Regions from separate parts of the Homo sapiens genome. Here region 2 is linked to region 1. Evidence: fine-mapped expression QTL. A gene starts in region 1. The other region holds a variant in brackets. All regions are shown on one strand. Distances are from middle to middle.

Region 1 (5,031 bases):
CTCGAGTCTCTGCTGGGGGTCAGAGCAGCCAGTGCTTCTGCTGTGAAACGCAGACCTGGGGCAGGCGGACCCCCTCCTCCTAACTCCTGTAAATTCTCCCGACTCTGGCCTCACTGGGCCACCCTCTCCAGGGACAGGTTCCCCGTTCCTGGGTTCCCACAAGCCTCAGTCTGCCCACATGGCTGGCACAAGGGCTAAATGAGCTGCCTGGTACTCAGTCAGGCCTCTGCAGCCCTCACTAATGGGTAATACCAGCACCAACATGGATGGACGTGTATGTGGGTGGCAGGGTTATGGCTCAGTCTTCTGGCTTTGTCCCCACCTCTCTGCCTCACAGAGAGGCCTTCCCTGCCCTGGCTCCCCTCCAGGGTCCTGTCCCCCATCCCTGTACCGTACACCCACGCTCACCCACACCTGCCCCCACCCCCACATCACCATACACCCACGCTCACCCACACCTGCCCCCAGCCCCACTTCTCCTTTGCAGCTCCCCTCCGCCCACACCTTCCTGCCTGGGAGCTGCTGGCCCATGTACAGGGGATGGAGAGGGTGGGCCAGCGCCCACCAGTCAGGGCTGGCTGACTGGGGTTCTTTGTGAACCTTCAGGGTCTCCCAAGCTGGAAACCTGGGGGTCGGCCTTGCTCCCCTCACTCCATGGCCAGCCGCTGCATCATCCCCTGCCCTGGGCCACCTGCCCTGGACGTGGGCCACAGTGCCAGAGAGAGGGACCCTTGCAGGTACAGCTCAGAATCTCCCTCCTACCCAGACACCCCCAGGTTCTGTACTGCCCCGGGACTGGTGCCCTGCCCATCCGCAGCCCGGATGCTCCCTCCTCCCTCCCAGCATCCCCTGTGGCAGTGGCCATGCCTGCCCCCAGAGCAGCTCAGGCTCCCCTTTCATCTCTCCAAGCCTTAGCCCCTGCAGCCCTCCGCCTGGAGTGTTTGCCTCCCCCTCGCTGCTGCTCAGGGTCTCCCTCTGCCCCCAGGCTCCCTCCCCAGCCCCTGAGTTTCTCCTCTCACTGTGCTTCCCCAGCCCTGAGTGCTTAGGGGTCTGGGTGGCATGTGTGGCATTTAACCCCATGCTCTCTGCTGAGCCCTGAGCTCCCAGAGTTCCCTCCAGCCCTGGCCCTGGGGAGGGGGTAGCATGTGACCAGGAGGGCGGAGGGGCTTGTGTGTGTTTCTGAGACGCAGTCTGAGAGAGACACGGGTGACAGACAGTTGGGGACCCCAAACACTGGGGAGCAGAGATAGACAGGAGGGGCCCGCAGTGAGACACAGAGGTGAGCAGGAGAGGACACATAGCCCTGGAGAAAAGGAGCAGGTGTGGGCGGGCTTCCCTCCACTGCAGTCACAGTTCCCTCACTCATAGGCAGATCTTCCTGGGTCCTCCCTGCACAAAGCCCCAGTGGCTCCCTCGTGTCCCCCAGCCACAGTCCAAGCTCCCTAATGTGCTAGATAAGGCCCCAGTCCAGCCTTTCGGTCCCAGCACTCCCTGGACTTCCTGTTTGGGCCTCCAAGCCTTTGCTCCCCTTTGGCCTTCACCCCCATCTGCTCCCTAGACCTCAGTCCATCTGGCAAACACTTCACCATCGCCCTCTCCATGAAGCCTTCCGGCCCACCTTCCAGGATGACGTGAGCTGGTGCCCTTGCTGCGAGGCTGTCTTCCCCCATCAGCACAAGTGTGAGATTCCCTCAGGGCAGACCCACATGCTACTTGGGCCTGGTACAAGTGTCTGATGTCAGGCTGGGCACTGTGGCTTCACACCTATAATCCCAGCACTTTGGGAGGCCGAGGAGGGCGGATCACCTGAGGTCAGGAGTTCGAGACCAGCCTGGCCAAATGGTGAAACCCCACCTCTACTAAAAATACAAAAATTAGCCGGGCATGGTGGTGCATGCCTGTAATCCCAGTTACTCGGGAGGCTGAGGCAGGAGAATCGCTTGAATCTGGGAGGCAGAGGTTGCAGTGAGCCGAGATTGCACCACTGCACAGAGCCAGACTCTTTTTCAAAAAAAAAAAAAAAAAAAGCAGGTGTCTGATATCCCCAACCAGCTCTGTCCAGGAAGGGCAGGAAGAGAGGAGGAGACAGGTGGGTTGGGGGAGATGGCAGGGGAGCACTCGGGGTCATGGAGAGGCTTTGGCTAGACGGAGCAGAGGAACCACTCAGGGTCTGTGTCCTGGCTGCGGGGTCCATCCCCCTCCCTACCCAAGAGGAGGCTCTGGTCTGCCCCCAGACACCTCCCAGCACCCAGCAGAGGGCCCACCCAGGCGGTGCTGGTTGAGGGGCTGAATTGGGGAACCACAGGTAGAAAGAGAGGCCAGGCCGGGTGCGGTGGCTCACGCCTGTAATCCTAGCACTTTGGGAGGCCGAGGCAGGTGGATCACGAGGTCAGGAGTTCAAAACCAGTCTGACCAAGATGGTGAAACCCCGTCTCTACTAAAAATACAAAAATTAGCCGGGCGTGGCAGTGGGCGCCTACAATCTCAGCTACTCGGGAGGCTGAGGCAGAGAATTGTTTGAACCCGGGAGGCAGAGCTTGCAGTGAGCCGAGATAGCGCCATTGCACTCCAGCCTGGGCGACAGAGCGAGACTCCGTCTCAAAAAAAAAAAAAGAAAAGAAAGGGGGGCCCCAGGCGAGCTCGGTCCCACCCAGCAGGCGGGGGCGGGGCAGGGCAGAGTGCTCCCCCCGCCCCCCGCTTCCTCCCCGAGGGCCCCGGAGCCCAGCTCAGCCTCAGTCCCCGCAGCTTGTGCGGCGGCGTCGGCACCATGAGGCGAGGGCCCCGGAGCCTGCGGGGCAGGGACGCGCCAGCCCCCACGCCCTGCGTCCCGGCCGAGTGCTTCGACCTGCTGGTCCGCCACTGCGTGGCCTGCGGGCTCCTGCGCACGCCGCGGCCGAAACCGGGTAAGGGGGACCCACGGGGCGCGCGGCGCCGGCAGCTGCGGGGAGAACGGGGCCCCGATCGCCAGGGCGCAGGCAGAGCCCCGACCCCCGGGGGCGCCGAGGGCTGAAAGGACCCTGTGGGCAGGGCCTGGAGGGGCCCGCGATCACCGCGTGGCCCTCACCGCCGCCTCTCTCCCTCCCCTTGTCCACCGCCCCCCGGCTGTCCCTCCCCTCCCCGGCCAGCCTCGCCCCCCTCCGCCCCTCCCCGTCCCCGCTCCTCCCTCCCCTCGGCCCCCTGGCCTCCCTCCCTGTCCCCTCCCGAAGCAGCCGGGGCCAGCAGCCCTGCGCCCAGGACGGCGCTGCAGCCGCAGGAGTCGGTGGGCGCGGGGGCCGGCGAGGCGGCGCTGCCCCTGCCCGGGCTGCTCTTTGGCGCCCCCGCGCTGCTGGGCCTGGCACTGGTCCTGGCGCTGGTCCTGGTGGGTCTGGTGAGCTGGAGGCGGCGACAGCGGCGGCTTCGCGGCGCGTCCTCCGCAGAGGCCCCCGACGGAGACAAGGACGGTGAGTTCCGTGTGTAGGGGAACCAGTCTGAGCGGGGCGCAGGGGCTGGGGTGTCGGGACGGTCTAGGGGGAGATGCATGGCCCCTGAGGGGGAGAGAAGGGCTTTAAGGGGAAACGGAGACAGAGTGGAAAAGAGTTTGCGCTGAGGAGCTCAGGCTGGGGAGGGAGACATAGTCCTGCCCCTGAGACCCTGGTCGGAGCCAGGAACAGCTCTGCCCTGACAGACCCCAGTGTGAGGAAGAGACAGGTTGCAGGAAGGGGGCCCCGTCTGAGGGAGGAGTCTGTCCTGCCCTTTGGGAGTCTAACGGAGCTTGGTTCCCCCATAAATCCCTGAAGAGTTTGCCAGACTGAGCCCCAGCTCCCCAACTCCCTGCCCTGCCAGCTCCCCACTGGCCAGGCCTCTGGACTCAGGGTCAGCCAGGTGCCACCCCTCCCCACCCTGCATTGGGCTTCATTTGACGGAGGACTGCCCCTCCAGAGGAGTCTTCTAGGGGAGGGAGGGAAGGCTGTGACTGAGTACGGAGCCTCTACCCCCTCTGCCTGCAGCCCCAGAGCCCCTGGACAAGGTCATCATTCTGTCTCCGGGAATCTCTGATGCCACAGCTCCTGCCTGGCCTCCTCCTGGGGAAGACCCAGGAACCACCCCACCTGGCCACAGTGTCCCTGTGCCAGCCACAGAGCTGGGCTCCACTGAACTGGTGACCACCAAGACGGCCGGCCCTGAGCAACAATAGCAGGGAGCCGGCAGGAGGTGGCCCCTGCCCTCCCTCTGGACCCCCAGCCAGGGGCTTGGAAATCAAATTCAGCTCTTCACTCCAGCATGCACATGCCCTCTTTCTGGGACCAGGCTAACTCTGCAGAAGCACAGACACTACAGACCACAGCATTCAGCCCCCATGGAGTTTGGTGTGCTTGCCTTTGGCTTCAGACCTCACCATCTTTGACAGCCCTTGAAGGTGGTAGCCCAGCTCCTGTTCCTGTGCCTTCAAAAGGCTGGGGCACTATGAGTAAAAGACCGCTTTTAAAATGGGGAAGGCACCATTAAGCCAAAATGAATCTGAAAAAAGACCAAGTGGGAGGATGCCTAATTTGTAGTTGGGTGGTTTTTTGTGTTTGTTTGATTTTTTTTTTTTTTTTTTTTTTTTTTTTTTGAGACGAGTCTTGCTCTGTCGCCAGGCTGGAGTACAGTGGCGCGATCTCGCCTCACTGTAACCTCCGACTCCTTGGTTCAAGTGATTCTCCTGCCTCAGCCTCCCGAATAGCTGGGATTACAGGCACGCACCACCACAGCCAGCTAATTTTTGTATTTTTAGTAGAGACGGGATTTCACCATGTTGGCCAGGATGGTCTCGATCTCCTGACCTCGTGATCCGCCCTGCTCGGCCTCCCAAAGTGCTGGGATTACAGGCATGAGCCACCATGCCCGGCCTTGTTTTGTGTTTTGGTTTTTTTTGAGACAGGGTCTTGCTGTATCACGCAGGCTGGAGTGCAACGATGGGTCCCCAGCTAATTGCAGCCTGGGCTCAAGCAATCTTTCTGCTTCAGCCTCCTGAGTAGGTGGGACTACAGGTGCTCCACCTTGCCCAGCTAA
Region 2 (5,512 bases), 75 kb after region 1:
CTGCACATGCCTGTTGGTCCAGCTACACGGGAGGCTAAGATGGGAGGATCGCTTGAACCTAGGAATTCAAGGTCGGCCTAGGCAACAAAGTGAGACAAGGTCACTAAATAAATAAATTTTATTTTATTATTTTTTGAGACAGAGTCTCACTCTGTCGCCCAGGCTGGAGTGCAGTGGTGTGATCTCAGCTCACTGCAGCCTCTGGCTCCACCTCCGCCTCCCACGTTCAAGCAATTCTCAAGCCTCAGGCTCCTGAGTAGCTGGCATTACAGGCACGTACCACCAAACCCGGCTAATTTTTGTATTTTCAGTTGAGACCGGGTTTCACCATGTTGGCCAGGCTGGTCTTGAACTCCTGGCCTCAAGTGATCTGCCCGCCTCAGCCTCCCAAAGTGCTGGGATTATAGGAATGAGCCACCACCCCCGGATTCTAAATAAATAAATCTTAAAGATGTTTTTCTTATGTCTTGTGTTCTATGAGTGCATGGAGAAAATGTTCCTTTCCCTGTACCGCTTCAAGCACCAAGCATACTGGTATTAAAAAACAAAAGCCAGGCCGGGCATGGTGGTTCACCCCTGCAATCTCAGCACTTTGGGAGGCCGAGGCGGGTGGATCACCTGAGGTCAGGAGTTCGAGACTAGCCTGGCCAACATGGTGAAACCCCATCTCTACTAAAAATATAAAAATTATCTGAGTGTGGGGGTGGGTGCCTGTAATCCCAGCTACTCGGAAGGCTGAGGCAGTTATCACTTGAACCTGGGAGGCAGGGGTTGCAGTGAGTCGAGATCGCGCCACTGCACTCCAGCCTGGGTGGCAAGAGTGAAACGCCATCTCAAAACAAAAACAAAAACAAAAAAACACAAAACACAAAACAACAACAACAAAAAAACTGGCACTGACTCACTGAAATGCTCTCAATAGCAACTTTCATGCAACTTATAAAAATGGTGATCATGCTTTCTTCTTTTTTTTTTTTTTTTGAGATGGAGTCTCGCTCTGTCGCCCAGGATGGAGTGCAGTGGCGTGATCTCAGCTCACTGCAAGCTCCGCCTCCCGGGTTCACGCCATTCTCCTGCCTCAGCCTCCCGAGTAGCTGGGACTACAGGCGCCCGCCACCACGCCCAGCTAATTTTTTGTATTTTTAGTAGAGACGGGGTTTCACCGTGTTAGCCAGGATGGTCTTGATCTCCTGACCTTGTGATCCACCTGCCGCGGCCTCCCAAAGTGCTGGGATTACAGGCGTGAGCCACTGCACCTGACCGATCATGCTTTCTGAACCAGAAACTAGAAGGGATGTTTCACCTCATAATGGAATAAGATATTTTTAAAAGTTAGACTAGCCTGGAAAATCTGGACAGATCTATGTAATTTCTGCAAAGCTTTCACTTTTAGGGAGGTAAGTATGTAAATACAGAAGGATTTCAACGGGTTAAGCATCCACTGTGTACCAGGCACAGAGATAATAAATTAGTCCTTGACCTCAAAGAGTTAGTGAAAGGATCACAATATGGTTTGTGAAGATTGTCACAGCAGAGATGTGCATCTGCAAGACACCAAAGAGACACAGGGAACATGACAAAATCACAGAATCCAGCAAGTCAATAGTTCCCTGAAGGAGTTGGATTGAAGGCTGATCAGGATGCAAAGTACAGTCTAGGCCAGGGAACCTCAAGAGCCAAGGCAGGGAGACATGGAGCTGCATGATAGGTTGTTGAAGACAATGGGTGATGGGCAGGGCACCATACTGGGCAAGTTGTTAGGGGCCAAAGCACAAAGGGCCCTACAACTCATGGTGGTGAAATGAAAAAATGAAGGAGAACTCATAGCAAGTTGTCCCACAATGCTCTAAGAAGGAGAGCTCCTCCAGCCCAGCAGTTGCTCATTCTGGTTTACATGGGGTTGAGGAGGCAGAGGCTGCTGTCCTGCCTAGAACTCCAAAATATCATGAACTAATTAAGAATCACTGGCCGGGCACAGTGGCTCATGCCTGTAATCCCAGCACTTTGGGACGCCAAGGCGGGTGGATCACTTGAGGTCAGGAGTTCGAGACAAGCCTGGCCAACATGGTGAAACCCCGTCTCTACTAAAAATAAAAAAATTAGCTGGGCATGGTGGCACATGCCTGCAGCTACTTGGGAGGCTGAGGCAGAAGAATCACCTGAACCCAGGAGGTGGAGGGTGCAGTGAGCTGAGACTGTGCCACTGCACTCCAGCCTAGGCAAAAAGAGCAAAAAGAGCAAAACTCCATCTACCACAAAAAAAAAAAAAAAAAAAAAAAAAAAAAAATCATTCTGAGAGTATGAGAATGGCTGGAATAAAAAGTCAGTCAGATAACTTCATCAATTGATGAAGAAGCTGAGAATTTTCTGAAAACTGGTTAAATAAGAGTTTTGGTTATAAATATGGCCCAAAAAGTGACCAAAACTGGGAAACAGGTCATCTCCCATGGCCTGTAGGGTTCAGGGTTTCAGATGAAAGTCAGGAGAGGAAAAAACAAAAAAATAAAAAAAGAGTGACAAGGGATCAGATTTAAGGAGAAAGGCAAGATGTCAAAAAGCTAAACCAAGGCCCGTTTTGCAAGGCCAAACTGAATGGAGATGTCACGATTAAATTCAAAGAGAAGTGGCTGTGACTCCAATAATGTAATCACTGTGCTATCTTTGAAAAATTAATTAATTTCCTTGAGACTCAGTTACTTAATTGTAAATATGGGAATAATCCAAACTGATGGATATATATCAATACACAGAAAAATACATCAAGCA[C/T]ATAATAAAATGTATTTAATTTTTTCACTTTTTTTTTCTGGTTTTTTCCTTCCTCCCTCCCTGCCTCCCTCCCTCCTTCACTCCCAGGCCAGGTCCCCATAGGTTTGCCTTTTGTTTGTTTGTTTGTTTGAGATGGAGTCTCTCTCTATCGCCCAGGCTGGAGTGCAGTGGCACAATCTCTGCTCACTGCAAGCTCCACCTCCCGGGTTCACACCATTCTCCTGCCTCAGCCTCCCAAGTAGCTGAGACTACAGGCATCCGCTACCATGCCCGGCTAATTTTTCGTATTTTTTAGTAGAGACGGGGTTTCACCGTGTTAGCCAGGATGGTCTTGATCTCCTGACCTTGTGATCCACCCCCCTTGGCCCCACAAAGTGCTGGGATTACAGGCGTGAGCCACCGCGCCCGGCCGCTTTGTTTTTTTTTTAAAGTGTCTTTAGAAGCAAGGCCTTATTGGCTGGGTGCGGTGGCTCATGCCTGTAATACCAGCACTTTGGGAGGCCGAGGCGGGTGGATCACCTGCAGTCAGGAGTTCAAGATCAGCCTGGCCAACAGGGTGAAACCCTCTCTCTACTTAAAATACAAAAAATCAGCTGGGCGTGGTGGTACGCACCTGTAATCCCAGCTACTTGGAAGGCTGAGGCAGGAGAATCGCTTGAACCCGGGAGGTGGAGGTTGCAGTGAGGCGAGATCGCGCCATTGCACTCCAGACTGGGGGACAAGAGCAAGACTTCATCTCAAAAAAACAAACAAACAAACAAAAAGACTAAAAGAAGCAGGGCCTTACTATGTTGCCCAGGAGAGTCTCAAATTCCTGGACTCAAGTGATCCTCCTGCCTCAGGCTCCCAAGCAGCCCAGACCATGCCGACTTTCCATAGTTTTTTTTTTTAAACATAAATTTAAAAAGGGGAAAATCCCCAGGTTAGATTCCAATTAAACCTTTGAATAAAAGCCAGTGGTTGCACTATTGATATTTAAGAACAAAACCAATGAAGTGACAAAGCTAATAAACTTATTTTCTGGGTAGAAAGCATATTTATATTTTATTTACAGAATAAATATTACCAGTACAGAAGGTAATATTACTGAAATTAAATTCATTCATGTCCTCCATGAGGACAACATAAAAGTAGCTACCACTGATACCCACTTAGTACGTTATATCAACCCTGAGACCAATATTATTATGTTTTAAAAGTGAGGAAACTGGCCGGGCTTGGTGGCTCACGCCTGTAATCCCAGCACTTTGGGAGGCCGAGGTGGGCGGATCACTTGAGGTCAGGAGTTCAAGACCAGCCTGGCCAACATGGTGAAACCCCATCTCTACCAAAAATACAAAAATTAGCTGGGCGTGGTGGTGGGCACCTGTAATCCGAGCTACTCGGGAGGCTGAGGCAGGAGAATCACTTGAACCCTGGAGGCAGAGGTTGCAGTGAGCCAAGATCTCTCCACTGTACTCCAGCCCAGGGGACAGAGGCTATCTCAAAAAAAACAAAAAGAAAGAAAAAAGTGAGGAATCTAAGATTCAAAGAAATTAGATAATTTGCCAAAGCCCCCTACATAAGCTACAAAGTGGCTGAACTGAGATTTGAATTTATATCTATATTTAGGTTTGTCTGAGTCTCTCCTCTACCCACACTTTTTTCCCCTTACAAAATAAACATTTCTTGGATTTTACATTTATGCTCATCACAACTTGGGGAAAAGCTGTAAGACAGACTCGGAGTGACAACAAAGGAGATTTGGGGCTGTGTGGAGGGGCACTTAGGTAATCATGTCATTACTTTTTTTTTTTTTTTGAGATGGAGTCTCGCTCTGTTGCCAGGCTGGAGTGCAGTGGCACCATCTCGGCTCACTGCAGCCTCCGCCTCCCTGGTTCTGAAGTGATTCTCCTGCCTCACCCTCCTGAGTAGCTGGGACTACAGGTGCCCGCCACCACACCTGGCTAATTTTTGGTATTTTTAGTAGAGACAGGGTTTCACCATGTTAGCCAGGATGGTCTTGATCTCCTGCCCTTGTGATCCACCTGCCTCGGCCTCCCAAAGTGCTGGGATTACAGGCGTAAGCCACGGCGCCCAGCCCCATCTCATTACTTTCTTTTTTTCTTTTGAGACGGAGTCTCACTCTGTCACCCAGGCTAGAGTGCAGTGGGGTAATCTCGGCTCACTGCAAACTCCGCCTCCCAGGTTAAAGCGATTCTCTCGCCTCAGCCTCCCGAGTAGCTGGGACTACAGGTGTGTGCCACTACGCCCGGCTAATTTTTTGTATTTTTTTAACAGAGATGGGGTTTCACCATGTTAGTCAGGATGGTCTCGATCTCCTGACCTCGTGATCCACCCACCTCCGCCTCCCAAAGTGCTGGGATTACAGGCGTGAGTCACCAAGCCCGGCCCATCTTATTACTTTCAATGTTCATTTCAATGCTGATGGAAGATCAATCTCAGGGTGAACATGTATGTAATGGACGCATCAAGGGGAATGGGGAAAAGGTATTTTTGACTGGCTGTATTTTACAAGTATACCTTCCTATCCAAATTATTAAATTATTCTTCAAATGAGACCATATGCCTTGACAAGATGCTGTTTTCTAGAACAATCTCTCTCTTTTTAAGTATACATTTTAATAAAAGATACATCCCTTAAGACACGCATTCAAGAAACATTAACTGAGATCCTACTATGTGCCAGATACAAAAATAAATGCCTTCAAGAGGCACATGTTATGGTAGAAAACCTCTGTAAAAA

The links. PIP is the estimated chance that this variant, and not a neighbour inherited with it, causes the effect.
Region 2: its variant is the best candidate, but not a certain one, in a credible set for the expression of TNFRSF13C in whole blood (INTERVAL, PIP 0.51).

Annotation. Positions count from the first base shown.
Region 1 is chr22:41,924,510-41,929,540 of GRCh38, reverse strand. It overlaps TNFRSF13C (TNF receptor superfamily member 13C), which reads left to right and starts at 2,735. Exons shown (of 3, transcript NM_052945.4): 1 at 2,735-2,903; 2 at 3,210-3,440; 3 at 3,987-5,031. The coding sequence starts at 2,768. The coding sequence ends at 4,174. It also overlaps a transcript of CENPM not described here. RefSeq lists enhancers at 1-125, 126-736, 880-949, 3,507-4,006, 4,007-4,508 and a silencer at 2,675-3,414.
Region 2 is chr22:41,849,504-41,855,015 of GRCh38, reverse strand. All of the region lies in intron 1 of SREBF2 (sterol regulatory element binding transcription factor 2), which reads right to left. Among named protein-coding and RNA genes, the nearest start is that of SREBF2-AS1, 18 kb to the right of the region's middle. The variant C/T (reference allele first, on the strand shown) is at 2,767.